4 linked regions of the Homo sapiens genome follow. The protein of the gene in region 3 purifies or fractionates together with the protein of the main gene of each other region. This does not show direct contact. Each region holds a gene or a part of one and is shown on either strand. Other genes may lie near its edges. The genes, in order: NEURL4, SLC27A4, MAPK6 and ECH1.

Evidence for each region.
Region 1: the proteins of MAPK6 (region 3) and NEURL4 purify together in Homo sapiens (affinity purification with mass spectrometry; 7 studies listed by BioGRID and IntAct, with this or other methods). This does not show direct contact.
Region 2: the proteins of MAPK6 (region 3) and SLC27A4 purify together in Homo sapiens (co-immunoprecipitation; 2 studies listed by BioGRID and IntAct, with this or other methods). This does not show direct contact.
Region 4: the proteins of MAPK6 (region 3) and ECH1 purify together in Homo sapiens (affinity purification with mass spectrometry; 3 studies listed by BioGRID and IntAct, with this or other methods). This does not show direct contact.

Annotation. Positions count from the first base shown.
Region 1 is NC_000017.11:7,326,325-7,333,495, forward strand, and holds the start of NEURL4 (neuralized-like protein 4), read right to left. Parts: upstream 3,012-7,171; 5' UTR 2,989-3,011; coding exon 2,707-2,988; intron 1,561-2,706; coding exon 1,116-1,560; intron 907-1,115; coding exon 841-906; intron 686-840; coding exon 387-685; intron 225-386; coding exon 113-224; intron 20-112; coding exon 1-19. UniProt on the Homo sapiens protein: Promotes CCP110 ubiquitination and proteasome-dependent degradation. By counteracting accumulation of CP110, maintains normal centriolar homeostasis and preventing formation of ectopic microtubular organizing centers.
Region 2 is NC_000009.12:128,335,675-128,343,529, reverse strand, and holds the start of SLC27A4 (long-chain fatty acid transport protein 4), read right to left. Parts: upstream 3,004-7,855; 5' UTR 2,692-3,003; intron 1,374-2,691; exon of another isoform or gene 1,165-1,373; coding exon of another isoform or gene 1,138-1,164; exon of another isoform or gene 770-1,137; intron 404-769; coding exon of another isoform or gene 398-403; coding exon 237-397; intron 1-236. UniProt on the Homo sapiens protein: Mediates the levels of long-chain fatty acids (LCFA) in the cell by facilitating their transport across cell membranes. Appears to be the principal fatty acid transporter in small intestinal enterocytes.
Region 3 is NC_000015.10:52,015,085-52,022,229, forward strand, and holds the start of MAPK6 (mitogen-activated protein kinase 6), read left to right. Parts: upstream 1-4,134; 5' UTR 4,135-4,292; exon of another isoform or gene 4,293-6,480; intron 6,481-7,145. UniProt on the Homo sapiens protein: Atypical MAPK protein. Phosphorylates microtubule-associated protein 2 (MAP2) and MAPKAPK5.
Region 4 is NC_000019.10:38,828,778-38,836,746, forward strand, and holds the start of ECH1 (delta(3,5)-Delta(2,4)-dienoyl-CoA isomerase, mitochondrial precursor), read right to left. Parts: upstream 3,018-7,969; 5' UTR 2,996-3,017; coding exon 2,944-2,995; exon of another isoform or gene 2,919-2,943; intron 2,740-2,918; coding exon 2,532-2,739; intron 2,390-2,531; coding exon 2,301-2,389; intron 1-2,300. Other genes in the region: HNRNPL (heterogeneous nuclear ribonucleoprotein L), read right to left, coding at 7,945-7,969. UniProt on the Homo sapiens protein: Isomerization of 3-trans,5-cis-dienoyl-CoA to 2-trans,4-trans-dienoyl-CoA.

The sequences.
Region 1 (7,171 bases), on a different chromosome or scaffold from region 3:
CCGCTCATCATGATGGTGCCTGGGTGATAGTGGACACTTGGGTTCGGGTACGGGGCTTCCTTCCCCTCAGCAACACCAGGCCTGCACCCCCGCCCCTGCCCGGGGCTGGTACCTGACTGGAGGTTGGTCATGGTGGCTGGGTACTCCAAACTGTTGGGGTTGTGGGTGGTGACCCCAATCTCAATGGAGCCTGACCACTTATCAACAAGCTTGTCGATACGGATCTGGCATTGAGGGACAGAAGGGAGAAGCAGGGAATGTAAATGCAGAAAGGGACCTTCAGCCCTTGGTTCTTCCCCAGGGCCCACCCTCCTAGCACCAAGGGTCAATCCCCATCTTTAGCTCCCAGGGATAAGGCGCCAACCAGACCACAGGACTTTGCACACCTCAAACATCTCATTGTCCCGAAGGGGGCGATTGGTCATGACAACCCCATTGTTGAATTCATCCAGGGGCCGCCGGCGCTCAGCCGTCTTATTATTGTTGCTGAGTTTGATGAGGGTCCCGCACTTTTCATGAAAGAGCAGGGCATCGTTGGAAGTGAGAATGGGCGAGGTGGCAGCACCGCTAGATCCCAGGCCTTCCCCTGCCGGTGGGGAGCTCAGGTTCACATTCAGGAGCCCTCCATTGTAGGCAGACAGGATGGTGTTGCTCACCACCTCAGACAGCTCCATGTTGGCAAAGTCTATAGCAGCAGGATGGAAGAAGGAAGCTCGGAAGTTGGGATGAGGCTCTACACCCCCAGACCTGGTGCCTCTCTCCCTACCCCTTCTCCTGAGGGCCCTCCCTTGTCCACCTCACTTCCCACTCCCCTTCCCAGGGCCTCCCCAAAGCCCTCACCATTATGCGACTCAAGGCTGTTAGGAAACGTCTCCGGCCGGGCCTGCGCTGGGGACACCATGAAGGCTGGGGACCAGGTGGGATGGGAGGGGAATAAGGGTTCAGTCCCTGCTTCACGGCCCATAGCCAGGAGAACCCCCCATCCTCTAGCTCCTGCTCTCCCATTCAACAGACTTGGGGATCAGGGTGGCCCTGCCCACACCCAGCCTGTCTTGTCACTCTATTTCCCCCATTCCGTCCCCACCCCACCACCACTGCCCTAGCTGTGTTCTCACCTTCATCTGCAGAGGTCCCCTGTTCAGCCAAGGCAGAGTCTTCAGTGGGGGCCAAGGGCTCGAGGGGAGGTGTGGGGATGGGAGTAGGGGGGCTGAAGCCTGGCTCAGGGGGTAGCACGGTGATCTGGGTGCACTTGCCATAAAGGTCCACGACGGCCCAGACACGAGGGGGCAGGCCTGTGGCAGCCACACCGCAATCCCGCCCATTCACCCAGAGCCGAAGCTCCCCAGCAACTGTGCGCTCCACGCCCACGCGGTCCCCTTCACCAAGCTGGTCCAGGTCCTGACCATACTCCTCCAACACAGAGCGTCCATCTCTCAGCACAGAGCAGCCCGACACTACCCACGAGCCCCCCTTCAGGCCCGTGGCACTGCTTGGAAAGTCCAGCACACTGGGGTCCAGCGCTGTCACCCCAATCTCAATGGAGCCGCTCCAGGAGTTGACCTGGGATAGGGGTATTGGACAGAGGCTTAGAATGGGCCACCCCCCATTCCACAGGCCACCATATCTTCCCACCTCTCAGACAGCTAGCTGGCTTTCTGTCTCTTGGAACACTAATCCAGAGATGCAGACAGTGATTTTCTGGACTCCGTCTTGGTAATTATTTGGGCTTTCCTTTAGCAACTCTGCTCTCTACTCAGTGTTTACTAAACCACTCCTTTCCAAGCCAAGCACAAATTCCTTGGTTCCAACCTCCTGCCTCCTCTAACTTTCCTTGTCTCTATGGCTCTCCAACCATCCAAATTCTCCTACTTCCTATACCCACACCTCTTGCTCTTGTGTATCATTCATTCCTTTCCCCTGGCCTAATTCTCTCCAAAGATCAGGCTCTACCCAGATTCAATCTCCTTCCAAGTTCTTTTTCTGTGAGCCTGGCCTCTTCACTGAATCACACACACCTCCCTCACCCTGGATCTTTCTCCTCACCTATCTTTCTGGCACAGCCTCTGTCCTTCAATGGTTTGTTCTGTTTTTTTGAGACGGAGTCTCACTCACTCTATTGCCCAGGCTGGAGTGCAATGGCATGATCTCAGCTCACTGCAACCTCTGCCTCCCGGGTTCAAGCCATTCTCCTGCCTCAGCCTCCAGAGTAGCTGGGATTACAGGCGCACGCCACCATGCCTGGCCAATTTTTGTATTTTTAGTAAAGACGGGGTTTCACCACGTTCACCAGGCTGGTCTCAAACCCCTGACTCTAGTGATCCGCCCGCCTCGGACTCCCAAAGTGCTGGGATTACGTTTGTTCGTTCCTTGGCATCTTTCTTCACTTGCCATCACATCTCTGACATCTCTCCATCCTCCATGCCCAAGAAATTGTACCAGGAGGTCTGTTCCCAGCCATTCTAGTGGGTTAGCCCTCGTGTCCCTTCCCTGGTTCTGGATCTTGAGAAAACTCAAGCTCTTAATGTCATCTTCAAACTCAATGTTTCTGCTTCATGCTGTCTTCCTGACCGCCCCCTGGTGCTCTATGGTCTTTCTGTTCCCTCTCGGTGCCCGGCAATGTGGGCTACCCTGGCTGTCCTACCCCGTCTCCCTCTAGACGCCTCCCACCACCCTCCACATCTCTGTTCCGCGGTACCAGCGCTGCACCTTGCGGTCGATGCGGACGGTGAAGACGCGTCCATCGCGCAAGGGTTCTCGGCTCAACACCAGCCCGTGGTTAAACTCCTGGCCCGGCTGCTGCCGCCGCGCCGTACGCCCACAGGCCGACAGGCTCACCAAGCGCCCAGTGCGCGGGTGCAGTTCCCCGCCGCTGCCCAGACCCCCGTTGGACCCCGGTCCTGAGCCGCTCCCGCTGGGGCCCCCACCCCCGCCCGGCCCCGGTCCAGGGCCTCCCCCAGAGCCCCCACTCCCACCCGACCCTGCCGCCATCTCCGCTGACACCGGGGCAGCGCGACAGCCGCGCTTGGCGGCACCGTGGCAACCGCGTCGGGCAGACAGTCCGAGGGATACGACCGGGGGGCTGAGGCCAGGTATGCTTTACGGCACTGCCGGGCAATGAAGCAGCCCGCGCTAGGAGCTGGGGACGACCACGATGAGAACAGAAGGACACGGGGTCGGGAGCCTCGCTTTACGGCATAGCGAGGTGACGGAGCGGCTCCGAGGGGGACGAAGACCTGGGCAGGGAGCTTTTGCGACAGTGGGAGAAAGACACGCCCACCGCAGGCATCTTTACGACGGTGGGGTGCTGGAGCCCAAACACTTTCTGCTTTGCGACAGCGGCACCGACGACCCCGCCCTCGCTAGGGGGCGGTGACACCTTGAAGCACTCGCTTTACGGCAAGAGGGGGTGTCTCCCCTCGGGATGCAGGCTCCAAAGCAGCGTGAGCCGAGTCTGGAGGACCCAGAGAAGCGGTAGTGAAAGTCTCTTCCCGCCACCCGACTGAGGACGAAGTGTCTTGCAACAGTGCGGCAGTCCTTCCACTTTGCCTCACACCTCTTCTGATTGGCTGAGCTAGCCGACTGGCGGGGGTGGGGGAAGCTCGCTGATAGTTCAAGTCAAGCCCAGCTTCAACTCCAACTCAACCAAACTATTCCATGTTAAGACCACAAAGAGTCTAAAGAAGTCCCGACAGGCCGTTTCAAGCGACAGCGTTGATGACCCCAAAAGATCTCCCTTAGAGCTATTAACAAGCCCCCTGCCCAACTCCCCGAAGCTCAAGCTCAGGCTGGAGGACCGTGAGGTCACAGTCGAAGCTCCTGGCCTGGCCCCCTGACTGGGATTGGCTGGTTTGGATGAGGGTGGTGATGGAGAAGGGCGGGAACAAATTGCCCAGACAAAGAAAATCTTTGGGTGGGACACAAAGGAAAGGGGCGAGCGGAGGGACCCCCAGCCCGAGTCTCTATATAGTCTTGATTCCGCCCGCCGCAGCTCTGGAGCAGGGGAGAAGTGGACCCGGGACTGAGCCCGAGCATCCCCGGCCGGCAGCGGTGGGGGCGGGGCCAGGGGCGGGGCTACGTGGAGCCGGGAGGCGGGTCAGGATCGCTGAGAGCAGCCCCCCAGTGGGGCCATGGAGAAGGTGGAGTCCCTAGGGGCTGCTGGCGGCCTCAACCGGGATTCCCCTGGAGGGGCAGCCAGAGGAGTGCCCGCAGCGGTCACAGGAGTCGAGGCAGGCGCTGGGCAGCCCTCCAGAGTAGTCTTGTTTCACGGTTCTGGGCCCCACGTGCACTCAGGGGGCTCCGTAACTCATAGTACTGGTTCAAGCTGTCCCTCCGGGGGGATAGTGGTCCTTGGTTCCGGGCCCAGTCAGCACCCAAGGGAGGCTGCGAACCACAGCCTTGGGTCTGGCAGGAACCCTGGTGGATTCAACATCCCCGGGCCTCGAACCAGTGTATCCAGGGCTTCCAGCCCCGGGCCTGGGGGACCTGCAGGGCAAGAGGTAAACAGCCCCGGGTGCAGTCCGCACTCTGGGCCAACTTGCTTGAACCCCCAAAACTCCCAACAGGACCGGCCCCGGAGCATCCTACGAAAGAACAGCTCCAACTTGATGCAGAAATCCCCCAATGTGGAGAAGTAAGGAGCCCAGCTCTGCGGGCAGCCAGCCCAGAGTCGGGAGGGTTCAGGACACCTGAGGGTGGGAGCCAGAAGGAAAGGGGCAGAGCCTTAAGAATGAAGAGTTAGAGTAGGTGAGGGCAATTGAGTGGGAAGTCCGAGGTTCCAGGCTTTCGGGAGAAGAGCAGGTGCCCCATAAACCGTGGCTGCACAGGACTGTGATTATCATTAAGTCTGACCCCATCCCCAGCCTCAACAAGGTATAAGAAACCTGTTTTGAGTCGGAGTGGTGACTCATGCCTGTAATCCTAGCACTTTGGGAGGCCGAGGTGGGCAGATCACCTGAGGTCAGGAGTTCGAGACCAGCCCGGCCAACATGGTGAAACCCTGTCCCTACTAAAAATACAAAAATAAGCCGGGTGTGGTGGCAGGCACCTGTAATCCCAGCTACTTGGGAGGCTAAGGCAGGAGAATGGCTTGAACCGGGGAGGCAGAGGTTGCAATGAGCTGAGATCACACCATTGCACTCCAGTCTGGAAAACAGAGCAAGACTCCATCTCAAAAAACAAACAAACAACAACAAAAACTGTTTTGAATGCCACGCAGGGTAGCTCATGCCTGTAATCCCAGCACTTTGGGAGTGCGAGGCAGGCAGATCACGAGGTCAGGAGTTCAAGACCAGCCTGACCAACATGGTGAAACCCCATCTCTACTAAAAATACAAAAATTAGCCAGGTGTGGTGGCGCACGCCTGTAATCCCAGCTACTCAGGAGGCTGAGGCAGGAGAATCACTTGAACCCGGGAGGCAGAGGTTGCCGTGAGCTGTGATCGTGCCACTGCACTCCAGCTTGGTCAACAGAGCCAAGATTCCATCTCAAAACAAAAACAAAAGCAAAAAACAAAAACAAAAACAAAAAAAACCTGTTTTGAATGACTGGGAAAATGAGGGAGGCCTATGGGGGGGTCATTAGAAGGTCTCCTCCCCCAGCCCCAGAAGGAAGTCTCAGCACTGGGACGAGATGAATATCCTGGCCACCTACCGCCCTGCTGACAAGGACTATGGATTTATGATGGTGGATGAGCCCAACACTCCCTACCACAGGTGCTGAGCCCTCAGCCCCAACCCTTCAGTCCAGAGATTCTTCTCTATTTAAAGGAGGGGACAGGTGGAGGAGGCAGAGCGCCTCAGGGACTGGATACTGCCTGACACCCACCTCCCGGCACTGCTTCCCCCTCCTCTGCAGGCTGCAGGACAGTTTTGAGGACCTCTCTGCCGGCTCCTCCTGCTCAGTGAATCCTGGAGTGCTGGCAGAGAGGTAAGAGTCCTGCCAGAGATCAGCCGGGTTATGGGGCCTCTTCCTTCCCTCAGCCCTGAATTCAGGTCTGCAGCGGGTCTGCTTTCTGACACCTGCAGTGGGAGGTGCTACAATTTCCATCAGGCCTGGATGGGGGCAGGGGTCCGCCAATTTGGCCTCGTTTACCACCTGTCCCCATTGCTATTTTCTTCTCTTGATGCCCCCAACTAGTCTCCTGCCCCTTCAGGATTGCCATGATGGACAGTATCTGCCCCAGGTTCCGCCAGGACTGTGCTGACAGGAGCTCAGGGCCTGCAGACAACTTTTCCAAGATACATGATGTAGGGTCCAGCCCTATGGGGCTTAGCGGGTGTTCCCCACCGTGTGCAGAGACGAGAGATTGTAATAAATTAAGACACAAGACAAAGAGATAAAGAGAAAGCAGCTGGGCCTGGGGGATGACTACCAAGACGCGGAGACCGGTAGTGGCCCTGAACCACTGGTTGCGCTGATATTTATTGCATACAAGACAAGGGGGCAGGGTAAGGAGGGTGAATCTTCTAAGTGATTGACAAGGTGCAGCAAGTCACGTGATCACAGGACAGGGGGCCCTTCCCTTTTAGGTAGCCGAAGTAGAGAGAGAAGGCAGCATACGTCAGCGTTTTCTTCTATGCACTGATAAGAAAGATCAAAGACATTAAGACTTTCACTATTTCTTCTACTGCTCTCTACTACGAATTTCAAAGAGGAACCAGGAGTACGGGAGGAACATGAAAGTGGACAAGGAGCGTGAGCATTGAAGCACAGCACCACAGGGAGGGGTTTAGGCCTCCGGATGACTGCGGGGAGGCCTGGATAATATCCAGCCTTCCACAAGAAGCTGGTGGAGCAGAGTGTTCCCTGACTCCTCCAAGGAAAGGAGACTCCCTTTCGCGATCTGCTAAGTAACGGGTGTCTTCCCAGGCACTAGCGTTACCGCTTGACCAAGGAGCCCTCAAGCGGCCCTTATGCGAGCGTGACAGAAGGTTCACCTCTTGCCTTCTAGGTCACTTCTCACAATGTCCCTTCAGCACCTGACCCTATACCCGCCGGTTATTCCTAGGTTATATTAGTAATGCAACAAACAGTAATATTAAAAGCTAATGATTAATAATGTCTATAATAATGATTGATAATTGTCCATGATCATCTCTATATCTAATTTGTATTATGACTATTCTTATTCTAACTATTTCTTTATTATACTGAAACAGTTTGTGCCTTCAG
Region 2 (7,855 bases), on a different chromosome or scaffold from region 3:
CAAGGCCTGGGAGCCTCAAGTTAGGGAGATTCCCTGGGAGAAGACTTTGACCTTGGAGATGGAGGGACCAGGTACTATTGCCAGGGTACGGGTGTGGAGCAGAGGCTGCTGTTCTGGAACTCAGCTCAGCTGCCCTGTGCTGGTAGAGAACATGAGGTCTGGCCTGGGGAGATTTGGGGGACCAGAAGCTCACTGTAGTGTGGCAGACCCCAGGAAAGGCTGGGCCAGGTACTCACAAGATATCGCGCCTGATGGTCTTGATGAAGACCCGGATGAAGCGCCAGCCGCCAGATCCCAAGTAGAGGAACAACAGGGAGAATCCCACCTGGGTCCAGGGCAGTTTCAGCACCAGCTTGGAGAACAGCAGCACCCCCACCAGAGAGGCTCCAAGCAGCATTGTGGCCTGCGGACACAGGGCAGTTAGTGGACCCAAACACCCAACCCTCCAGGTCTCCTACCTCCCAGCCCAGACAGCCAGGCCACTGTGATCCCAAGGGGACAGCCTGTGGTAAGGCTTAGCCATACTGAGTTGGGTGACTGACCACAGGGGTCCCTTTCCAGGCTTGGCCTGGAAGGGGCAGGCTAGGGGCTTGGCACTTGAGGTGAGGAATTCCAAGAGTGAGAAGCAGGAGGCTGGTTCTCGTCTCATAGTCCCATCTCTGCCCACCATTCTCCAAGTGACCTTGGGCAAGACCTTTTCACATTTTAGACCTTAGTATCTGCCCTCTGTGCAATGGGTGTAGTGAGACGTGTTCTTTTTTTTTTTAAGTTTTTAAACTTTTTATTTGCATATTAAAAAAACTGTGCATTCCAATAATTAAAATCATTTGAACAAAAAAAAAAATGGCACTCTGATTAAACTGCATTACAGCCTGCAGGACACCTTGGGCCAGCCTGGTTTTACTCTAGATTTCACTGTCGTCCCACCCCACTTCTTCCTTCACCAACAAGCAAGTTCTTTCCTTCCCTGCCAGCCAGATAGACAGATGGGAGAGGCAGGCGCAGCCTTCGTTGTCAGTAGTTCTTTGATGTGAAAGGGGCAGCATAGTCATTTAAACTTGATCCAACCTCTTTGCATCTTACAAAGTTAAACAGCTAAAAGAAGTAAAATAAGAAGGCAATACTTGTGGAATGTACAATGCATATTGGCGGTGCACGCCTCATTACGATTCGCTTGCTTGCTTCTCCTGTTCAATCGTTTCTTTGGAAGGCAGTGGATTTTTCTCTTGCATCTCTGTCTTCTTCAGTTTCGACTTATCGAATTTCTCAATCTCAGCCATATCGGGTTTGTCAGACATGGTTGCGGAGGAAAAGCGGAGCGAGGCATGCGAGAACGAGCGAAGTCTGGTCTGCGCAGTGGCCACCACCGAGTTGTCCTGAGACGTGTTCTAAGAGGCTTTTCTAGCCAAAACATGACAGTTCACTCTTCTGACATCCAGGGTCCCTAAAACCGGATGGCCTGGGGGTGGGTACTGACTTAAGAGCCTCTGGCTCGCTGGCAGTGGTGGCTCACACCTGTAATCCCAGCACTTTGGGAGGCCGAGGCAGGCGGATCATGACGTCAGGAGTTCGAGACCACCCTGACCAAGATGGTGAAACCCTGTCTCTACTAAAAATACAAAAATTAGCCAGGCATGGTGGCACACACCTGTAACCCCAGCTACTCAGGAGGCTGAGGCAGAAGAATTGCTTGAACCCGGGAGGCGGAGGTTCCATTGAGCCGAGATTGTGCCACTGCACTCCAGCCTGGGAGACAGAGCGAGACTCCGTCTCAAAAAAAGAAAAAAAAAGTCTCTGGCTCGACTCCCCACCCAGAACCCAGGGAGGTTCTGTGGATGACCAGGCCAAGTCAAAGGGGCAGCTCCCTGGAAAAGGAGCCCTGCTTGGTCCCTGCCCATAGACTCAGGTATCGCAGTGCGTCTGTTGGTCTATAGAGGGCGACCCAGAAAACGAGTTAGAGCCTGGAAGTGCTTGAAAGGTGACCGCCCAGGGGGCAAAGCTGATTGAGGGAGGCGAGGAGGACCTTGAAGACACCACCACCCATCACACAGACACACACAGCCACTCGGATGAATCTTTGGGGTCTAGGGCTTAGGGGAAGGCGAATGACTTGACTGTGCTTCAGGGGCTGGGTTGAGCTAGGACTCTTGGGTTCTATTCCTGGAGCTTTGAGGACTCGATCAAGGGGACATCTGATGGGACTGTTTTTCTCCGAGTTTTCCTGTTCTTGGGAGTAGATGAAGGTCACAAATGTGAAATGGCCTGAGAGCCTCCAAGCCAGGAAAAGGGAATGGTCTGGACCACAAGAAGCCCTGGGAGACCATCTCCCCCTCCCCCTCGCGAAAAGCAAAAGCCGGGGGCGGGGGAACTGAACCAGAGTCCTCAACCCCAACGCCAGGGTCCAGGGTCCTCAGATCTCTGGCCTCCCATAGCCCGCCATAGCAGAGGGGCAGGAACCTGTCCTGGAAGGCTGGGGCAAGAAGAGGCCAGAAGAGGGTGACTAGTTCCCTCGGGCCCCTGTCCCGGGTCACGCGTGCCGCCCTCGCCCCTAGACAGCAAGGTAACAGTGCGTCTGTCGGGGAAATAGCGCCGCAGGGCGCGCCCCCCACCTGGGGTCCGCACCGCCACCTCGCCCGACTCGGCCTGGCACATGTCCCCACCCGGGAACCCACCAGCCCGGTCTATGCTCACCCGGCGTCGGCTCCGCCGCGCGGCGCCCCGTCCAGATGCGGCCCGGTTGCAGCAGCGTAGACAGCGTGAGGGGCATTAGCCGCCCCTGGACGCACGGAGCCGGGTCTCAGCAGGGTTTAGCCGGCTCTGCGCCCTGCATGGCCCGGCCGCCCCGCCAGCCCCGCCCGCCGCCCGGCCCCGCCCGCCGCGCTCCTACCCCGCCCGCCTCCCGCACCCCAAACCTGCTGTGCCAGGCCGCAGCACCGCCTGCCGCACCTTCCCCGAAGCCGGCAAGCCACAGAGCCGGCGGCGCAGCGCAGCCCCAGCGCGCCTGACGCCGCTCGGCCCCAGCCCGCCCTGCTCGCGCAACGGCTTCGGGCGGCGCCGCCGCGCGGCACGCTGGGAGTTGTAGTCCACGCCGCGCGGCCCCACCCAGCCGAGGAGACCCCCGAGTCCGCGAGGAGACAGGCGGGCTTCACCCCGGCCCTTCCTCCCTGCCGACCCCGGCCCTTGCCCCCTGCTGTCCCCAGCGCCCGGATGTAGGAAGAGCACCCCAGTCCACACCACAGCCGAAAACCCGGAGCACGCTCTCGGGCCCCGGCCGAGTTCAGCAAACACCCAGCACCACACCTAGAAGCTCGCTAAGAGGGCGGTTTCAGGCAGAGGTGAGCGGGGCGGCCGGGTTCCGCAGCCGGCTCTGTGGCGCAATGGATAGCGCATTGGACTTCTAGCTGAGCCTAGTGTGGTCATTCAAAGGTTGTGGGTTCGAGTCCCACCAGAGTCGAATTTTGATGGCTCCTACTCCCTGACTTTCACCTGCGTGTTTTAAGGACTCCAGGACCTATCTAACAAATAAGGTTCAGAACGAAAATCATAAGTCACACCCAACTTTGCTGCGACACAGCCATAAACCTGGTGTCTAGGTGACTACGAGAAATCCTTTCTCGTACCATGGTGTCTTGTGAGCAGCCTGGCACACCTGTTGGCACAAAGGACACGGATTTGGAGGCCCTTAGTTAACTTCACCATCTATGATCTCTGGTCCCTGCAACAAATCAGTTAACCTATATTTGTCATGCCACCCTTATTTGTCATGCCACCTCCAGAGCCATAGGCGAGTGGCCAGATTCTCGGCCCTGTTGGGACTCTTGGCCTCTGAAAAATTGGTTTCTTGTTAAGTAACCATGTTGGGCATCCACAGTTGCCACTTGTCCTTAAACATTAATAGATCCCTGGGAGGCTGAGGCAGGAGAATTGCTTGAACCTGGGAGGCGGAAGTCGCAGTAAGCCGAGGTTGCGCCACTGCACTCCAGCCTGGGCGACAGAGCAAGTCTCCATCTCAAAAAAAAAAAAAAAAAAAAAAAAAAAAAAGATTCTGGGACTGGCGTGGTGGCTCAAGCTTGTAATCCCAGCACTTTTGGAGGCTGAGGCAGGAGGATCACTTCAGCCAGGAGTTCAAGACCAGCCTGGGCAACATAGTGAGACTCTGCCTCTACAGGAAAAAAAAAAAAATTAGCCAGGTAGCTCTTGCTTGTACTCCCAGCTACTCAGGAAGATGAGGTGGGAGGATTGCTTGAGCTCTGGAACTTGGGGCTGCAGTGAGCTGTGATTGCACCACTAAACTCCACCCTGGGCAACAAAGTAAGACCGTGTCTCAAAAAATAAAAATAAGCTGGGCACAGTGGCTCATGCCTGTAATCCCAGCACTTTGGGAGGTTGAGGTGGGCAGATCACATGACGTCAGGAGTTCGAGACCAGTCTGGCCAACAGGGCGAAACCCTGTCTCTATTAAAAATACAAAACTTAGCCGAGCGTGGTGGTGCACGTCTGTAATCCTAGCTACTCAGGAGCTGAGGCAAGAGAATCACTGAACCCGGGAGGCAAAGGTTGCAGTGAGCCGAGATTGGGCCACTGCACTCCAGCCTGAGCAACAGAGCAGTGAGAGCCTGTCTCAGAAAACTAATAATAATAAAAATAAAGATGAAATTTTGGTCTGATAAGGATTTGGACCTATTTCTTCTGGAATATAGGGTGCCTCCTTTTGGGGACTTGAGTAAATTCCAGCACCACATCCTTCATGGGTATCACCATCAGGAGGCAGAATGTGCAGTGGTATGGGCATGAGCATTGAGTTCGCCTTCTCAGCTGAAAGGTCAAGATTCATTTTGTTCTTACATATAAAAAATGGGACATACTAATTAATAATACCTCACAGGGTCAGCGTGGAGATTTGTGGGGAGTATTTTTTTTTTTTTTCCGAGACGGAGTCTTGCTCTGTCGCCCAGGCTGGAGTGCAGTGGCGCGATCTCGGCTCACTGCAAGCTCCGCCTCCCAGGTTCACGCCATTCTCCTGCCTCAGCCTCCCGAGTAGCTGGGACTACAGGCGCCCGCCACCAGGCCCAGCTAATTTTTTTGTATTTTTTTTAGTAGAGACAGGGTTTCACCGTGTCAGCCAGGATGGTCTCGATCTCCTGACCTCGTGATCCACCCGCCTCAGCCTCCCAAAGTGTTGGGATTACAGGCATGAGCCACTGCGCCTGGCACAACATTTCTTGAATGAATGAAAGGGAGAGTGAATTGGAGGCTCTGACCTTATGCACACCAGGATTCGTGAGTATAATCATGAGTACTTCCACATCAACTACTGAGGTCATATGCAAGTGGGCAGGTGAGAGTTAGCGGGAGGATGCTGGTGACCAGCCACCTGCTCTCCTTCAGTCAGGCTCGTCACACTGGAGAAACCAAAGCAGTACCACCGGACATTGGATCAGGCCTGAGGGGGAGAAGCAAGACAACACAGAACAGGACAGCCTGCCTTTCAGTTGCTTACAGTCTAGCTGGCCGCACAGAGGACAGGTGGAAGTGAGATGGAATAGGTCATCCCTCACTCAGTGCTCACTGTGCTGGTGTCACGCTCATCACAGTATTGTCATTAAAATTTTTTAATTTTTTTTTTTTGAGATGGGGTCTCACTCCTGTTGCCCAGACAATCACAGCTGACTGCAGCCTTCACCTCCTGGGCTCAGGTGCTCCTGCTACCTCAGCCTCCTGGGTAGCTAGGGCTACAGGTGTGCGCCACCACACCTGGCTAATTTTTTGTATTTTTAGTAGAGACGAGGTTTCATCATGTTGTTCAGGCTAGTCTGGAACTCTTGAGCTCAAGTCATCTGCCCCCCCAGGCCTCCCAAAGTGCTGGGACTCCAGGCATGAGCCACCCCCCGCCAAGCTCTACCAACAAAATAATTTCAGAGTGGTGAATGCTCTAAAGAAAATAAGGGCATAGTGCAGTGGCTCATATCTGGAATACCAGCACTTTGGGAGGTCAAGGCAGGAAGATGGCTTGAGGCCAGGAGTTCAAGACCAGCCGAGCCAACATAGCAAGACCCTGTCTCTACAAAAGAAAAAAAAAAAAAAAAAGCCGGGCCCGGTGGCCCACACCTGTAATCCCAGCACTTTGGGAGGCTGAGGCGGGGGGATCACAAGATCAGGAGTTTGAGACCAGCCTGACCAACATGGTGAAACCACATCTCTACTAACAATTAAAAAAAAAATCAGCCGGGCGTGGTGGCAGGCACCTGTAATCCCAGCTACTCGGGAGGCTGAGGCAGGAGAATCGCCTGAACCCAGTAGGTGGGAGGTTGCAGTGAGCCGAGATCACGCCATTGCACTCCAGCCTGGGCGACAGAGTGAGACTCCATCCACTCCCCCCGCCAAAAAAAAAAAAAAAAAAAAGAAACCACTTGACTGGGCACGGTGGCTCAGGCATGTAATCCTAGCACTTTGGGATGCCAAAGTGGGCAGATCACCTGAGGTCAGGATTTCGAGACCAGCCTGGTCAACATGGTGAAACCCCGTCTCTACTAAAAATAAAAATTAGCTGGACATGGTGGTGCACCCCTGTAATCCCACCTACTTGGGAGGCTGAGGCAGGAGAATTGCTTGACCCTGGGAAAGGGAGGTTGCAGTAAGCTGAGATCACGCCATTGCACTCCAGCCTGGGTGACAGAGCGAGACTCCATCTCAAAACAAAAAAACAAAAAAAAACAAAACAAACAAAAAAAACTTAGCTAGGCGTGGTGGCATGCATCCATAGGCCCAGCTACTAGGGAAGCTAAAACAAGAGGATCCTGGAGCCCAGGAGGTCGAGGCTGTAGTGAGCCGTCATAGTGGCACTGCACTCCAGCCTGGGTGACAGAATGAGACCCCATCTCAAAAAATAAATAATAATAAACAGAAGATGATAGCATGGAGAGAGGCAGAGGGGGACTAGGGACTGCTTTAGATGGCAGGAAGCCCAGGAAGACATCTCTGCTGTGACATTTGAGCAGAGATGTGAATGACAAGGAGCTCACCATGTAACAACCTGGGGACACGGTGCTGTTCCCAAAGGCAGGAAGAAGCCTGGTGTGTTCAGGGAGCAGGATGAAGGCAAGCATGGTTTACTGAGATGGGAGAATAGACGTTTCTAGGCAGAAGTTGGTAGGGCCTCACCAGTGATTACCTATAGCCAGTTTGATTTTTCTCCAATCATGAGCTGGTAACACAAATGCCACCCTATACTCAGGAGACCAGACTCCATTCCCAGCTAAGCCTGATGCTTTGTGTCCATCTCACAAGTGCTACAAAGGCCCAGGGTTGTCCAGGCACTGCCTGCCTAGAGCAGGTGAGCTGCTCAGCTGGGCAGTGAAGGCCATCTGTCTGACCTCCGCTGCCACCCTGGCACTGTTGACTTTAGTGAGCTGCAGTGGGGGTGCCTGGGACCCTGGGAAGCTGCAGAAACAGCTGGCAGGTCTGCAGAGACTGGTGAGGTATGGGGACTCACTAGCATGGCCTCCTTTTCCCGCAGATTCAAGGAGCTCAGAACAAGGTTTCCCTCCTGAAAAGTCCATGGTTCTGAGGTGGGCCTCCAGCCTCCCCTGCCCTTCCTCTGCTATTGGGATCCCTGAACCAGACGTGGTGCGCACAGGGAAGGCTGGGGCCCTGGTATGGCAGTGCTGAGCAGGTCTTCAGACAACCCGTGGTTCCAACCCCAGCTCTATTCCTACTGCCTCGTTAGTAAAACACAAGCAAAATACCATCTCCCTCCTTGGGTGGTGACCTTGAGGTGTCAGTGCGATAATGCATCTCAAGTGCTTAGTACTGCCTGACATATAGTACAGTTAGAAACTGATTATAGATAGGGAAA
Region 3 (7,145 bases):
CCGCCTCCCGGGTTCAAGCAATTCTCCTGCCTCAGCCTCCTGAGTAGCTGGGATTACAGGCATGCACCACCAGGCCCGGCTAATTTTTGTATTTTTAGTAGAGATGGGGTTTCACCATGTTGGTCAGGCTGGTCTCAAACTCCTAACCTCATGTGATCTACCCGCCTCAGCTTCCCAAAGTGCTGGGATTACAGGTATGAGCCACCGCACCCAGCCTACACCTGACTAATTTTTGTATTTTTAGTAGAGACGGGGTTTCACCATGTTGGTCAGGCTGGTCCTGAACTACTGACCTCAGGTGATCCACCTGCCTCGGCCTCCCAGAGTACTGGGATTACAGGCCTGAGCCACCGCATCTGGCCAAGCACTGAAATTTTTATAGCCACAGAATGGGATTTTTTTTTTTTTTTTGAGAGGGAGTCTCGCTCTGTCACCCAGACTGGAGTGCAGTGGCATGATCTCGGCTCACTGCAGCCTCCGCCTCCCGGGTTCAAGCAATTCTCCTGCCTCAACCTCCTAAGTAGCTGGGTGGCGCACGCCACCACGCCCGGCTAATTTTTTTTGTATTTTTTAGTAGAGATGGGGTTTTACCCTGTTGGTCAGGTGATCCGCCCACCTTAGCCTCCCAAAGTGCTGGGATTACAGGCGTGAGTCCGCGCCCAGCCCAGAATGGCATTAAGAACTGAAACCGGGCTGGGCGTGGTGGCTCACACCTGTAATCCCAGCACTTTGGGAGGCTGAGGTGGGCAGATCACTTGAGGTCAGGAGTTCAAGACCAGCCTGGCCAACATGGTGAAACCCCCTCTCTACTAAAAATGCAAAAATTAGTTGGGCGTGGTGGCGCGCCCTGTAATCCCAGCTACTGGAAGGCTGAGACAGGAGAATACCTTGAACCTGGGAGGCAGAGCTTGCAGTGAGCTGAGATCCTGCCACTGCACTCCAGCCTGGGCCACAGAGCCAAACTCCATCGCGCGCGCGCGCGCGCGCACACACACACACACACACACACACACACACACACACAAACTAAAACTGGCCGGGCATGGTGGCTCACTCCTGTAATCCCAGCACTTTGGGAGGCCAAGGCGGGTGGTCAGGAGTTTGAGACCAGCCTGCCCAACATGGTGAAACCCCGTCTCTACTAAAAATACTAAAATTAGCTGGGCATGTGGTGCACACCTGTAATCCCAGCTACTCAGGAGGCTGACACAGGAGAATTGCTTGAACCCGGGAGGCGGAGGTTGCAGTGAGCCTAGATCGTGCCACTACACTCCAGCCTGGATGACAAGAGCAAAACTCCATCTCAAAAAAAGAAAAAAAAAACACCAAAAAAACTAAAACCAACTACATTGACATGACTTTACAATTCAACTATCTGCAATAAATATAACTTGAATTCCAAGAAACTCTTGCCTAAAAAGGTGGAGTTGCAAATAACTTGATTGTGGTTTCAGGAACTTCCTAAAATCCATTTATCTCATTAAGTTACTCACAGAATTTGCCTTCATCAGGGTAAACAGCCCTCTGTTCTACTGAGTTTAACAACTATTTATCCCTTTAGGCTCTCTTCAAAACTCTCCCCCTCCTCTGCCCACCCACCTTAAACTATTATAACACAAATTTGTCCCAAACCCAATCAGGACCCCTCACTGAAAAACCAGTCTTAAACCAGATCCCTGGGCCAGGTGTGGTGGCTCATGCCTGTAATCCCAGCACTTTCGGAGGGCAAGGCTGGTGGATCACCAGGTCAGGAGATCGAGACCATCCTGGTCAACATGGTAAAACCTCGTCTCTACTAAAAATACAAAAATCAGCTGGGTGTGCTGGCGCGCACCTGTAGTCCCAGCTACTCGGGAGGCTGAGGCGGGGGAATCGCTTGAGCAGAGGTTGCAGTGAGCAGAGGTTGCAGTGAGCCAAGATTGCACCACTCTGCACTCCAGCCTGGCGACAGACCGAGGCTCTGTCTCAAAAACAAACAAACAAACAAACAAACAAAAACCAGATCCCCCAAATCTTGTAATTATTCCATCCTTGACCTCCCCTTTGTCTCACGTGTCCGTGTGAAGAGACCACCAAACAGGCTTTGTGTGAAAAACAAGGCTGTTTATTTCACCTGGGTGCAGGCGGGCTGAGTCTGAAAAAGGAGTCAGCAAAGGGTGGTGGATTATCATTAGTTCTTACAGGTTTTGGGATAGGCAGTGGAGTTAAGAGCAATGGTTTGGGGGCAGGGGGTGGATCTCACAAAGTACATTCTCAAGGGTGGGGAGAGTTACAAGGAATCTTCTTAAGGATGGGGGAGATTATAAAGAACCTTCTTAAGGGTGGGGGAGATTACAAAGTACACTGATCAGTTAGGTTGGGGCAGAAATAAATCACAATGATGGAATGTCATCAGTTAAGGCTATTTTCATTTTTTTTGTGGATCTTCAGTTGCTTCAGGTCATCTGGATGTATATGTGCAGGTCACTGGGGATACGATGGCTTAGCTTGGGCTCAGAGGCCTGACACCCTTTTGAAATGCTACAAAGATTCTGTCAATTTAGTGGTCTCCCTTACTATTGTAAGCCAACTTTGCATTATCCACAGGAAGTCAGCAGTGACACTGGATTAAATGCTCCTTGAGGGAAGGCACAGTGCTTGGTATTTATTCTCCCACCTTCTCTGGGTGATCAGACATTGATGGAAAAGGAAGGTAAACGAGTTCTCAAAGAGTGAGAGGAAAAATGTCCTGAGGATCAGAGGAGAGCCTAGAGCAGAGGCAGTGGGGCTGAAGGTACGAGCTCTCGTTGCAGAAGCTGGAAATTCTGCGGTTGGAACAAGTCTCCCCTTTCTCTTGGTTTTTTTCACTCATTACCTCTTCTTCACACCTGGTACTCAGCTGACGTTGTTTTAAATATTAAAAAATATAAAGCATTCAAGCTCACCCCAACCACTTAACTTCATTACTCTGTGATTTTTTTTTTTGAGACAGAGTTTCGCCCTTTCGCCCAGGCTGGAGTGTCCTGGCGCGATCTCGGCTCACTGCAACCCCCCGCGGGGTTCAAGCTATTCTCCTGCCTCAGCCTCCCGAGTAGCTGGGATTACAGGTGTGAGCCACCACACCCGGCTACTTTTTGTATTTTTAGTGGAGACGGGGCTTTCACCATGTTGGCCATGCTGGTCTCGAACTCCTGGCCTCAGGTGATCTGCCCGTCTCGGCCTCCCAAAGTGCTAGGATTACAGGCGTGAACCACCACGCCTGGCCCTTTGTGATCTTTTTGAAGTGGTCTTTGCCTCTTTCTTGAAGATGCCCATAATAATGACTAGAAGGGCTATTCTATGTCTGGTTCTCAGCAAGATGGTGATGAAGTCATTGAAAAAATATGCTGACCTGCGTCTCTAATTTCATAAATACTTAAATTTCACATAAACACTGAAAAGGCTCCTTGGACTCAATAAGCCATGATAAGTAATGTAAGTTTGCTTTTAGCCAAGTGGGCCCAAGAAGGCACCCATCCACCTTTCTACGTTTCATAGTGCATCCCTTCCCAAATTCAAATTGTCCTATCCCAGTTCCTGCAACAAGCCAGGTACTCTGGCCTCCCAGTCTTTGCTCACAGAAACACCCTCCCCACCTCCTGGTTATATCCGCTCCTCCGGGATCCAGCTGAAAGGCCACCTTGGCGACCACTCCTGAAAGCCTTCCTCCATACTCTGGCAGAATGAATGACCTTAGTATTGGCCTCTAACGCGTCTGTCTTGTGCTCGGGCTGTCGCCTTCCAGCCAATCCATCTTAAGGTCCACCCTTCCTGGAGACTGAGGCCTCTTCCTCTCGGATTGCCCAGTGCCTTGCACGTAGTAGGTGCTTAGTAAACGCTGGCACTGGGTTTGGTCACTTTGTTCCCTTAATGCCAGGGCAGGTAGTAGAGCAAACGGCCCCAGCTGTCTTCCTCCCTGCCCGCCCGCAGGCAAAGCCCCCAGGAGACGCCGGACGAGCCGCGTGCCTTTCCCACCGCCTCCGCGGCGCGCGCAGCCCAGTCACGGGCGCTGGAAATTCCGGCGCGTGCGGGTGCGCTGGGCAGGGCGGGGGCGGGAGAACCCGTGGAGTGAGCCTGTGACGTGAGGGGGCGTGGCACCGCGAAGCCCCGCCCCCTCTTCCTCGCCCTCTCTCGCGGGTCGGGGTTACATGGCGGCGACTGCGGCAAAGCGAGAGCCTCGGAGACGCCGCTGCCGCCAGCACAGCCGGAGACCTGAGCCGACACTGGGGGCAGTCCGCGAGCCCCGCACTCTCTCGATGAGTCGGAGAAGTCCCGTGAGTGTGTGTGTGTACGTGTGCGGGGTGCGCCGGCGGGGCGGCTCGGGAGGGCGCCGCGGCGGGCCCGGCGGCGGCGGCGGCGGCGGCGACGGCGGAGCCGGCTCCCTCCTCCATTGTGTGTGACCCTCCGGCGGCTGCCGCTCAACAAAGGCGTTTTTGTTCGGTCTGCCGCCCGCCCCCTGCTCGCCCGCCTGCCCGCCCGCTCGGGCCTGGCCGGCGCGTCCCCGCGCGGGCGGGCGGGCGGCGGGCTGGGGTCCCCGCGTGGGGCCGGCCAGGCGGCCAGCGCGCCCCTCCCACCCGGCACGCCCCTCGCCGGTCGCCCTGCCAGGCCGCGCCCGCTCCCTGGCCCCGCACGCCTGCTGCCGTCCCGCCGCCTGCGCCTGGCTCCGCGGGTTCGAAACCCAGCCGGACCGGACCGGAGGGCGGGCGAGCGAGGGGCGGCGGCCCGGGGAACATGAGGTGGCGTGGAGTCTCGCCTTACTGGCACGCTGCCTTTCGAAATGCTCCCGCGTCTCCTCCCCCATCCCACCCGGTGACTCGGCCTCAGCTGACTCCGGCCGGGCAAAGTCTCCAGTGGCGTAGCGCGCAGCGCTCACCCGGCTCGTCTCAGAGCCCTGAAGTCCGCCCAAGTTTTGAGTCTTGCCATGAATGAGGTACTGAAAACTCGGAGACGAAATTCCTAATTTCCTCCCTCGGCCCTACAGTCTTTCCTTAGCTTCTTTCGGGACCTTAAGTGGTGGTCTGTAAAAGTGCCCAAATGAAAGCTTGTTTTGTCGGTTCACCAAAAAGGGCCTTGTCACTTTGCTGTGCATTTTAGTCCGCCTTGTGAGTTGTGTCGAAAAGTAAAGGTGTTTTGGCATCCTTTTGTTTCTTGGCGAGTGTAGGACCCAACCGGTTTAGGTGTTAGGGGGATCTCTGTGCAGCGGGAGCTTCTTGATTCCTTTCCTGTTTTATTTTTTCTTTTGCTTGTTCATTGGAAAAGGTCCAGTGAAAGGGACTGGTGAGTTGGAATTAGAAGCCTACTTGTATTAACGGCAGAATTCGTGTTCATTGCTAAAGATGCAGTCTCAGTAATGACTTTTTTTTTTTTAACGGATACAGATGATTTGTCAAGGGGAAAAATTAACACGCCATACAATGAAGAGCAAGCAGCTTCAGAGTAATTTTCTGATGGCTGATTCTTCTAGCCTGTCTCTTACAGTTCCAATTGCACATGTCCTCCCTCTTTAACGCTGGAAAACTGAGATGGAAAGAATGATCTGACCAGAAGAATGTAGGGTCCAAACAGGGCCTGGCCCTGAAATCAGGAATTTCTTCATAGAAATATCAGATTTTAATGTTTAAAAAATAATTTTGAATTGGGTGAAAGGAACTTTGTCTTTAGATAGTAGTTGTTCAAACATGTTTATGAAGTGTTTGCTATGTGCCAGGGATTGTAAAGTCATTTCACATATGTTACATCATTTATTAAGAATTGCCTTAAGCTTGTAAAATTATTCATTGATGTCCTGAATTCAGTAATTGCAGTTAATCTAGAAAATATGCCAGATTTGAGCAGAACATATTTGATCACCTAGGTATTACTGTTGAGAAGAAAACACTGGAAAATGGAGACTATTTTAGAAAAAACTTCGTATATGAGGATATTCTGGAATTCATTTATTTGCAAAAGAGGATTAGAAGTAGTCGTTGGCTACTTTCTGTTATTAAAAAATCCAGAGAAGAGTGATTTGAAGTCAGTTAATTTTGTAATAAAAAAATGCACACATTCTAAAGACTAATGTTAGCACTAAAAGTGTTGCAGTGCTTTACATAAATTCATTTAAAGCATCGTGAGAATCATAACTGACAAAATAGTAAGGTTTGCTGACTCAGGGTACTTTGCTGAAGGGGATGGGGGTCGGGTAGGAGGAAGCTTACAAGTGCTGCTGCAAGTTTTGAGTTGGATGATGACTCATGCTGCCCACGGACTGCTACGTGGCTTTTTTTTTTTTTTTTTTTAAATACACTGTATTTTTTTCTAAATGATAGGCTAAAATGTTCCTGTCCACATTGAAATTCTCTCTCATTTTTTCTGAAGAGGAACAGCAGTTTCTCTAAAAAAGTAATGGCTTCTTAAATTGCATTTTAAAAGGATATCATATACCCTACAGGTGGAATTGTGTAACATTTGCTGAGAGGAAAGGTAAAACCAATTTCTGGTCAGGTGCTGAAATTAAATGTTTGATACTAGCAGTTTTTTGGCTACTGCTGAGAGAGATTTGTTACAGGTTGTTTATAAAGGACAGATAGTACTTTTATGGTGTCGGTAGAAATTGACCTTATGTTTTTATTGGTTATGTGAAAGTTATCTTTATATTTAATATTTAATCAGATATGGCTCTGAATATGAAAGTTTCACTCAGAATTATTAAAACATAATTATATATTGTGCTTTGTGATTTATGTGAATTTTCTGTTTTAATAAAGACAATTTGAAATAGGTATTAGTCACTATTTTTCATGGTTTTTTTTTAAAGATAAGCTGAATGTACAGTTCTAAGTTGAAACTTGGTAATAAGATAAATCTTTTGACTGATTTTAAAACAGCCAACGTTTAGCAAGGTGGCTTAAAATAAGATTGAGAGGGGGAAAAAGATTGAGAATGGCAGTTTAAGAGTGGGGCTGGGTGCGTTGGCTCACACCTGTAATCCCGGCACTTTGGGAGCCTGAGGTGGAAGGATCGCTTGAGGCCAGGAGTTCAAGACCAGTCTGGGCAACATAACGAGACCCTGTCTCAATTTTTAAAATAAAAGAAAAAAAATTTCCCACCCCATCCTCTGGTTTTTCTGTGTATACTGTTTATTTTTC
Region 4 (7,969 bases), on a different chromosome or scaffold from region 3:
GCTAATATTCTTTTTTTTTATTTTTAGTAGAGATGGGGTTTCACCATGTTAGCCAGGATGGTCTCGATCTCCTGACCTCGTGATCCGCCTGCCTCGACCTCCCAAAGTGCTGGGATTACAGGCGTGAGCCACCACACCTGGCCAGAAGACAAGGATTTTAAATCAGTCATTATAACTATGCTCAATGGCAGGAAGAAAAACATGCATGACAAAAAATATACAACTGACCAGGCACAGTGGCTCACGCCTGTAATCCCAGCACTTTGGGAGGCCGAGGGGGGCCGATCACTGGAGGCCAGGAGTTCAAGACCCGCCTGGCCAAAATGGTGAGACCCCGTCTCTACTAAAAATATAAAAATTAGCCAGGCGTGGTGCCGGGTGCCTGTAATCACAAGTACTCAGGAGGCTCAGGCAGGAGAATGGCTTGAATCTGGGAGGTGGAGGTTGCAGTGAGCCCAGACTGCACCACTGTACTCCAGCCTGGTCAACAGAGTGAGACTCCTTCTCCAAAAAAAAAAAAAAAAAAAAAAAAAATTAGCTAGGCCTGGTGGCGGGCATCTGTAATCCCAGCTATGCAGGAGGCTGAGGCAGGAGAATTGCTTCAACCCAGGAGGCAGATGTTGCAATGAGCCAAAATTGCATCACTATACTCCAGCCTGGGTGACAAAGCGAGACTCTGTCTCAAAATAAATGAATAAATAAAATAAAATAAAATATGAACCAAATGGAAATTGGAGAATTGAAAACTACAATATCTGGGCTGGGCGTGGTAGCTCACGCCTGTAATCTCAGCACTTTTGGAGGCCGAGGCGGGCAGATCACGAGGTCAGGAGATCGAGACCATCCTGGCTAACACGGTGAAACCCCGTTTCTACTAAAAACACAAAAACTTAGCTGGGTGTGGTGGCAGGCACTGGTGGTCCCAGTACTCGGGAGGCTGAGGCAGAAGAATGGCCTGAACCCGGGAGGCAGAGCTTGCAGCGAGCCGAGATCGCACCACTGCACTCCAGCCTGGGTGACAGAGCGACTCTGTCTCAGAAAAAAAAAAAAAAGAAAGAAAACTACAATATCTGAAATTTAAAATCAGTGGGTAGTAGCTGGGCACGGTGGCTCACGCCTATCATCCTAGCACTTTGGGAGGCCCTAGGTGGGTGGATGACCTGAGGTCAGGAGTTTAAGACCAGCCTGGCCAACATGGTAAAACTCCGTCTCTACTAGAAACACAAAAAATTAGCCGGGCGTGGTGGCGGGCACTTGTAACCCCAGCTACTTGGGTGGCTGTGGCAGGAGAATCACTTGAACCCAGGAAGCAGAGGTTGCAGTGAGTTGAGATTGCACCATTGCAACAAAAGCAAAACTCCGTCTGAAACAAAATAAAACAAAATAAATCACTGGATGGGCTTTACAGAAGGATAGAGATGACTAAACAGTTAGTAACTGTGACCAGTGGAAATTCTCCAATCTGAAGAAAAGGTCAGTGGGTCAATCCAAAGATCCAACTGACCTGTAACTGGAAATCAATTAGTGAGTTGAATAGTTGCACGAAAGCATGTTATTATATTATATGCTGACACAGCTATAGGCTGAGAGGTTAAGCATGTTGTTCATGGCCACAGATCCAGGATGGAAACCTAGACTTCAGAGCCTATGATCCCATCGTGTTCTGTCAGACTAATACTTATATTTGAATGTTTTAAAGTAGGCCTTTTTTTAAAAAAATGATAGGGCTGGCCATGGTGGCACCTGCCTGTAATCCCAGCATTTTGGCAGGCTGAGGTGGGAGAATCGCTTGACCTCAGGTATTTGAGGTTACAGTGATTTATGATTAGGCAACTGTACTCCAGCCTGGGTGACAGAGAAAGATATTGTCTCCAAAAAAAAAAAAAAAAACACACAGATAAAAGTGTGAGTTAGGGGCCAGGAGCAATGGTTCAGGCCTATAATCCCAGCACTTTGGGAGGCTGAGGCAGGCAGATCATAACGTCAGGAGATGGAGACCATCCTGGCCAATATGGTGAAACCCCGTCTCTACTAAAAATACAAAAATTAGCTGGGTGTGGTGGCCCACGCCTGTAGTCCCAGACAGAAGAATTGCTTGAACCCGGGAGGTGGAGGTTGCAGTGAGCTGAGATTGCGCTACTGCACTCCAGCGTGGCAACAGAGCAAGACCCCGTCTCAAAAAAAAAAAAAAAAAGTGTGTAAGTCAGAAGCTGCTTAAAACCCTAATTCAGAAGCACTGCTCCACTGTCTATTGCCAGGAGCTAGGAAGGCTGGCAGGGTGTGTGAAGAGCGTCTGGTACCTGCAGTGAACATTTTTCCTGCACCAGAGATCACCACCGCCCGACAGTCAGCGTCTCTCGAAATCTTGTTGAAGCACTCTACCATCTCTCTGTGAAGCAACGAGTGAAGGGTTACAAATGGGGCGGGAATACCCTGCCCTCATGTCCATCTTCCCACAACGTTCCACTTTCACCCAGTCCCGCAGCCCCGCCTCCCCCCGCAGGCAGGCCTCCAGGATCTGCAGGTCAGACCTCCAGAAGACCTTGTTCATGGCATTCCTCTTGTTGGGCCGGTTGAGCTGGACATGCAGAACATGTTTCTGCGCAGACGTCACACGAAGGGACTCATAGCTGTGGTCTGGGGCTTCACCGAGGGCTACTCCGGAAGCCTCCTCTTGTGCAGAGGAGCCAGTGAGGCGAAGGCTAATACTGAGTCCCGGGTAGTTGGAGCCTGTCAGTCCTGGGGAGAAAGGAACAGCCTTTGATGACCCCAGACTGCAAGACACAGGCCTATCGAATTAGGGAGTCCTTCAAAAGGGAGCACACGCACCCCTGAATTTAGGGGACTCGGGCCCTTCGTGACCCCGGATAGCCCTCCCCGTCCTACATCTGCTATAACAGCACGACAGCGCGACGCACCCCCATAAGGCAAGAGGTGACTCACGCCGGGTCAGTAGGTCGCGGAGTCTGCGAGAAGCCACTATCCCCGCCGCCATCGCCGCCGCCTTCGTCTACTGCGTTCGGACGGAGTAACGTGCCCGTTAGCGGAGGGGGCGGGCACAGAAGGCCGCCATGTTGAGCGAGGGCACCGATGCCGCAACCTGACAGGCAATGACGCCGTTCTTTCCGCCATCTTTACTAAGGGCAGTCGATTTCCGGTTGCCTTACATAGAGCCAGGCTCAGAAATGGACCCTTTGCCCCAGTGGGAACCTGGCCAAAGAAAATAGCTCCTGCAATGGCGTGAACCTGGGAGGCGGAGTTTGCAGTGAGCCGAGATCGCGCCATTGCTCTCCAGCCTGGCGACCGAGCGACACTCCGTCTTAAAAAAAACAAAACAAACAAACAAAAAAAAAAACAGAAAAGCAAACAGCTCCCGCTAAAGTTCATCACACAGCTGTTTCATAATGGTGGAATAATAGGCGACAGCTGAAATGTCCAAGGACATAATTGCAGCAGAGCTTGTAATCATGCATGTATATATCATGTTAACTAAAAATAAAAGAAAACTTGCAGTACTGTGAGTTTACTCAGGTAAAGGAATGAGTACAGACGGGCCAACATTAAGCGCTGACTGTATAATATGAACTCCCACCAGGAGGTCGTACTATTTCCTACTATATGCAGAGGAAACTGGCCCAGGCACGGGAAGACACTAGGTTCAAGGTCGGTGGGCTTCAGAAGGGCTAAAGCAGGATTACCTGGCACCAGAGTTCATGTTCTTAGCCTGGCGCAGTGGCTCACGCCTGTAATACAAGCACTTTGGGAGGCCGAGGCAGGCGGATCACCTGAGGTCAGGAGTTCAACAGCAGCCTGGTCAACATGGCGAAACCCCGTCTCTACTAAAAATACAAAAATTAGCCGGGTGCGGTGTCCGGCACCTGTAATCCTAGCGGGAAGAGAATGGCTTGAGCCCAGGAGGCGGAGGTTGCAATGAGCAGAGATGGCACCACTGTACCCCAGCCTGGGCGACAGAGCAAGATCTCAAAAAAAAAAAAAAGAAGAAAAAAAAGTTCATGTTCTTAAAAAAAACAAACAAAACAAAAAAACCGAAATTCCCTTGGGAAAAGCCAGCTACCAAAAGGCATAAAAAGTACTGTAAAACTGCTGGCCGGGCGCGGTGGCTCACGCCTGTAATCCCAGCACTTTGGGAGGCCGTGGCGGGCAGATCACGAGGTCAGGAGATCGACCTCCTGACCTAGCTAACACAGTGAAACCCCGTCCCTACTAAAAAAATACAAAAACTTAGCGGGCATGGTGGCGGGCGTCTGTAGCCCCAGCTACTGGGGAGGCTGAGGCTGGAGAATGGCGTGAACCCCGGAGGCGGAGCTCGCAGGGAGCCGAGATGGCGCCACTGCACTCCAGCCTGGGGACAGAGCGAAACTCCATCTCAAAAAAATAAAAAAAAAAAGTACTGTAAAACTGCTTAAGTATGCTTTTTGGGGAGACATTGAGCAAGGCGGTGAACAGATGTCTCTGGGCCAGTGAGATTGAAGGAAGTATCTTTCCTTAATGAACCTGTCTCCTGTGTGTTTTCACAGACTAGAAAAGCAGGCTCTTTTGAAAGACAGAACCATTAACTACCCATCAACAGTAGACTGTTTATACCATAGAAAACTCTGAAACCTCTATGCAAAAATAAAAATGTGTGAGAAAAAAATGTGAAGATGTAATAGAACATTTAGTATGATCCTTTGTTCCTTTGGTGTAAGAAAGTATAGCTGGGCTGGGTGCGGTGGCTCAGGTCTGTAATCCCAGCACTTTAGGAGGCCCAGGCAGGCAGATCACCTCAGGTCAGGAGTTTGAGACCAGCATGGCCAACATGGTGAAACCCAATCTCTATTAAAAATATAAAAATTAGCCAGGCGTGTTGGCTCATGCCTCTAATCCCAGCACTTTGGGAGGCCAAGGCGGGTGGATCACAAGGTGAGAAGATCGAGACCATCCTGGCTAACACGGTGAAACCCCATCTCTACTAAAAATACCAAAAATTAGCCGGGCGTGGTGGCGGGCGCCTGTAGTCCCAGCTATTCGGGAGGCTGAGGCAGGAGAATGGCGTGAACCCAGGAGGCGGAGCTTGCACTGATGTGAGATCACGCCACTGCACTCCAGCCTGGGCCACAGAGCAAGACTCTGTCTAAAAAAAAAAAAAAATTAGCGGGGCGTGGTGGCAGGTGCCTGTAATCCCAGCTACTTGGGAGGCTGAGGCAGGAGAATTGCTTCAACCCAGGAGGCAGAGTTTGCAGTGAGCTGACCTCATGCCACTGCACTCCAGCACTTCAGCCTGGGTGACAGAGTGAGACAATGTCTCAAAAAAAAGAGTGTAGCTGGACCTGCACAGAATATGGTGTATGTATGTAATATCTCTGGAAGGAGACTCAAACTGGTAACAGGAAATGAAATTGGATGCTAGGAGACAAACTGGTAAAATTCACTTTTTATCACCTTGACTGGCTTAAAAACAATAAACCCTAGTTGATTTTATTTATGGCTGCAAGATGACTGTAGTTTTTCCTTGTCTAAAGATTGTTTGAAACTTCCCATAGTGAAGCAAAACTTGTTCATCTGCCAAATGATGCTTTTGTGATGTCATTAAATGTTAAAAATGTAAGGCCGGGCGCAGTGGCTCATGCCTGTATCATAGCTACTTTGGGAGGCCGAGGCCAGTGGATCTCAGGAGTTCGAGACCAGCCTAGCCAATATGGTGAAACCCCATCTCTACTAAAAATACAAAAATCAGCCAGGCATGGTGGCACATGCCTGTAATCCCAGCTACTTGGGAGGCTGAGGCAGGAGAATTGCTTGAACCAGGAGGCAGAGGTTGCAGTGAGCCAAGATTATGCCATTGCACTCCAGCCTGGGTGACAGAGCAAGACTCCATCTCAAAAAAGAAAATTTTATTCACAGTAAATTCCCCAGAGTGGGCTATTCTCAAGCACACATGCATAAACTTCAAGGTTTGTGACCTGCTCCTCTGCAGGTCACCTCTTCCCTCCAGTAGGAGTCAAAATCCTTAAACCAGGATCCTTCCGGGTGGTACCCGCCACCGCAAGGCATCTTCACAGATTTGCATCTGCAAGTGGGAAGCTATCTACCGTATGATGCAATTATATAGATCCTTTAAGTTTTGAGACATGGTCTCGCCCTTTCGCCCAGGATGGAGTATAGTGGTGCCATCACAGCTCACAGCTCAAGTGATCCTCCTGCTTCAGCCCCCATGAGTAGCTGGGACTATAGGCACAGTGTGTGCCACCATGCCCACATCATTTTTCTATATATTTTTTTCTCGAGACGGAGTTTCACTCTCGTCACTCAGGCTGGAGTGCAATGGCACAATCTCGGCTCACTGCAACCTCTGCCTCCTGGGTTCCAGCGATTCTCCTGCCTCAGCCTCCTGAGTAGCTGTGACTACAGGAACGTGCCACCATGCCCGGCTAATTTTTATTTTTTTAGTAGAGACAGGGTTTCACCATGTTGGCCAGGCTGGTCTCGAACTCCTGACCGTAAGTGTTCCGCTCACCTCGGCCTCCCAAAGTGCTGGGATTACAGGCGTGAGCCACCATGCCCGGCCCACTTTCTTATTTTTTGTAGACAGGGTTTTGCCATGTTGCCCAGGTCTCAAAACTCCCGGCCTTAAGTGATCTGCCTGCCTTGGCTTCCCAAAGTGCTGGGATTACAGGCATGGGCCACTACATCCAGCTATATATATCCTTTAACCCAGCAATTCCACTGGCAGGAATTTATCTCCTGATCAGTATCAGGGAAGCTGGCCAAGATACTTGTGTAGATACGTGTTACAGCGCTGTTTGCAATAGCAAAAATAGACCTGGAAACTACCCTTTGGGACCAGGTTAAATCATGACACATCCACACAATGATACTGCAAGGGTAAAGACAAGTCACTCTGAAATGATACAGAACACAAAGGTTTTGGGTTTTTTTGACACCCTGTTGCCCAGGCTGGGGTGCAATGACCCCATCACAGTTCACTGCAGCATCACCCTCCAGGGTTGGGGTGATCCACCTCAGCCTGCTAGGTAGCTGGGACTACTGGCATGCGCCACTATGCCCGGCTGATTTTTGTATTTTTAGTAGAGACAGGGTTTCACCATGATGGCAAGGCTGGAAACCTTTTTTTTTTTGAGATAGGGTCTCATTGTCACCCAGGTTGGAGTGCAGTGATGTGATCACTGCACTGTTAACCTCCTAGGCTCAACTGACCCACCTGCCTCAGCCTCCCGAGTAGCTGGGACTACAGGTGTTCCACCAAACCCACCTTTTTGTAGTGACGTTTCACCATGCTGCCCAGGCTGGTCTTCAACTCCTGAGCTCAAAGTATGTGCCCCACCTTGGCCTCCCCAGATTGCTGGAATTATAGGTGTGATGACCCACTGGGCCTGATAGAGCTTGCTCGGGCAGGGCCCAGTAAGAATGCCACTAAGCCTGATGGATTTTCCTCAAAGACTCAATTGCTAGCACCATTCTCAGTCTGCAGCCCACCCTGCTCCTCTTGGGTCTCTGTATGCCTCCAGAGGGCCTGTGACTGTGCTCAGGCCTGCCTGTGTCTTCAGGACAGAGAGGGAGAAAAGCAGACATCCTGGAATCCCAGCAAGTGCTGTGTTTATTTTCCAAACAATTTTATTGAAATGTGCCAAGAGTACATGGGCAGCACAAATGTATGAACAGGAAAAAAAAAAATCACATGTACAATAATTTTTTAAAAGTGAAGGTTAATCTTGGGAGATAACAGTTCCCCTCTCCCTCCCCCTGCAGATTTCCAGCGTTTCCATTAAGGTTAAGTAAGCCTCTACAAACCTAGCATTTAAAAAAAAAAAAAAAAAAAAAAAAAAGGAATACAAGATCTTTTGCAAATAACAAAAACAAAAAATGGCATAAAGGAAAGAGAAATGTCTTCCTGCTCAGATGGGACTCTTCCTAGGCACCTAATTAGGAGGCGTGCTGAGCAGTGGAG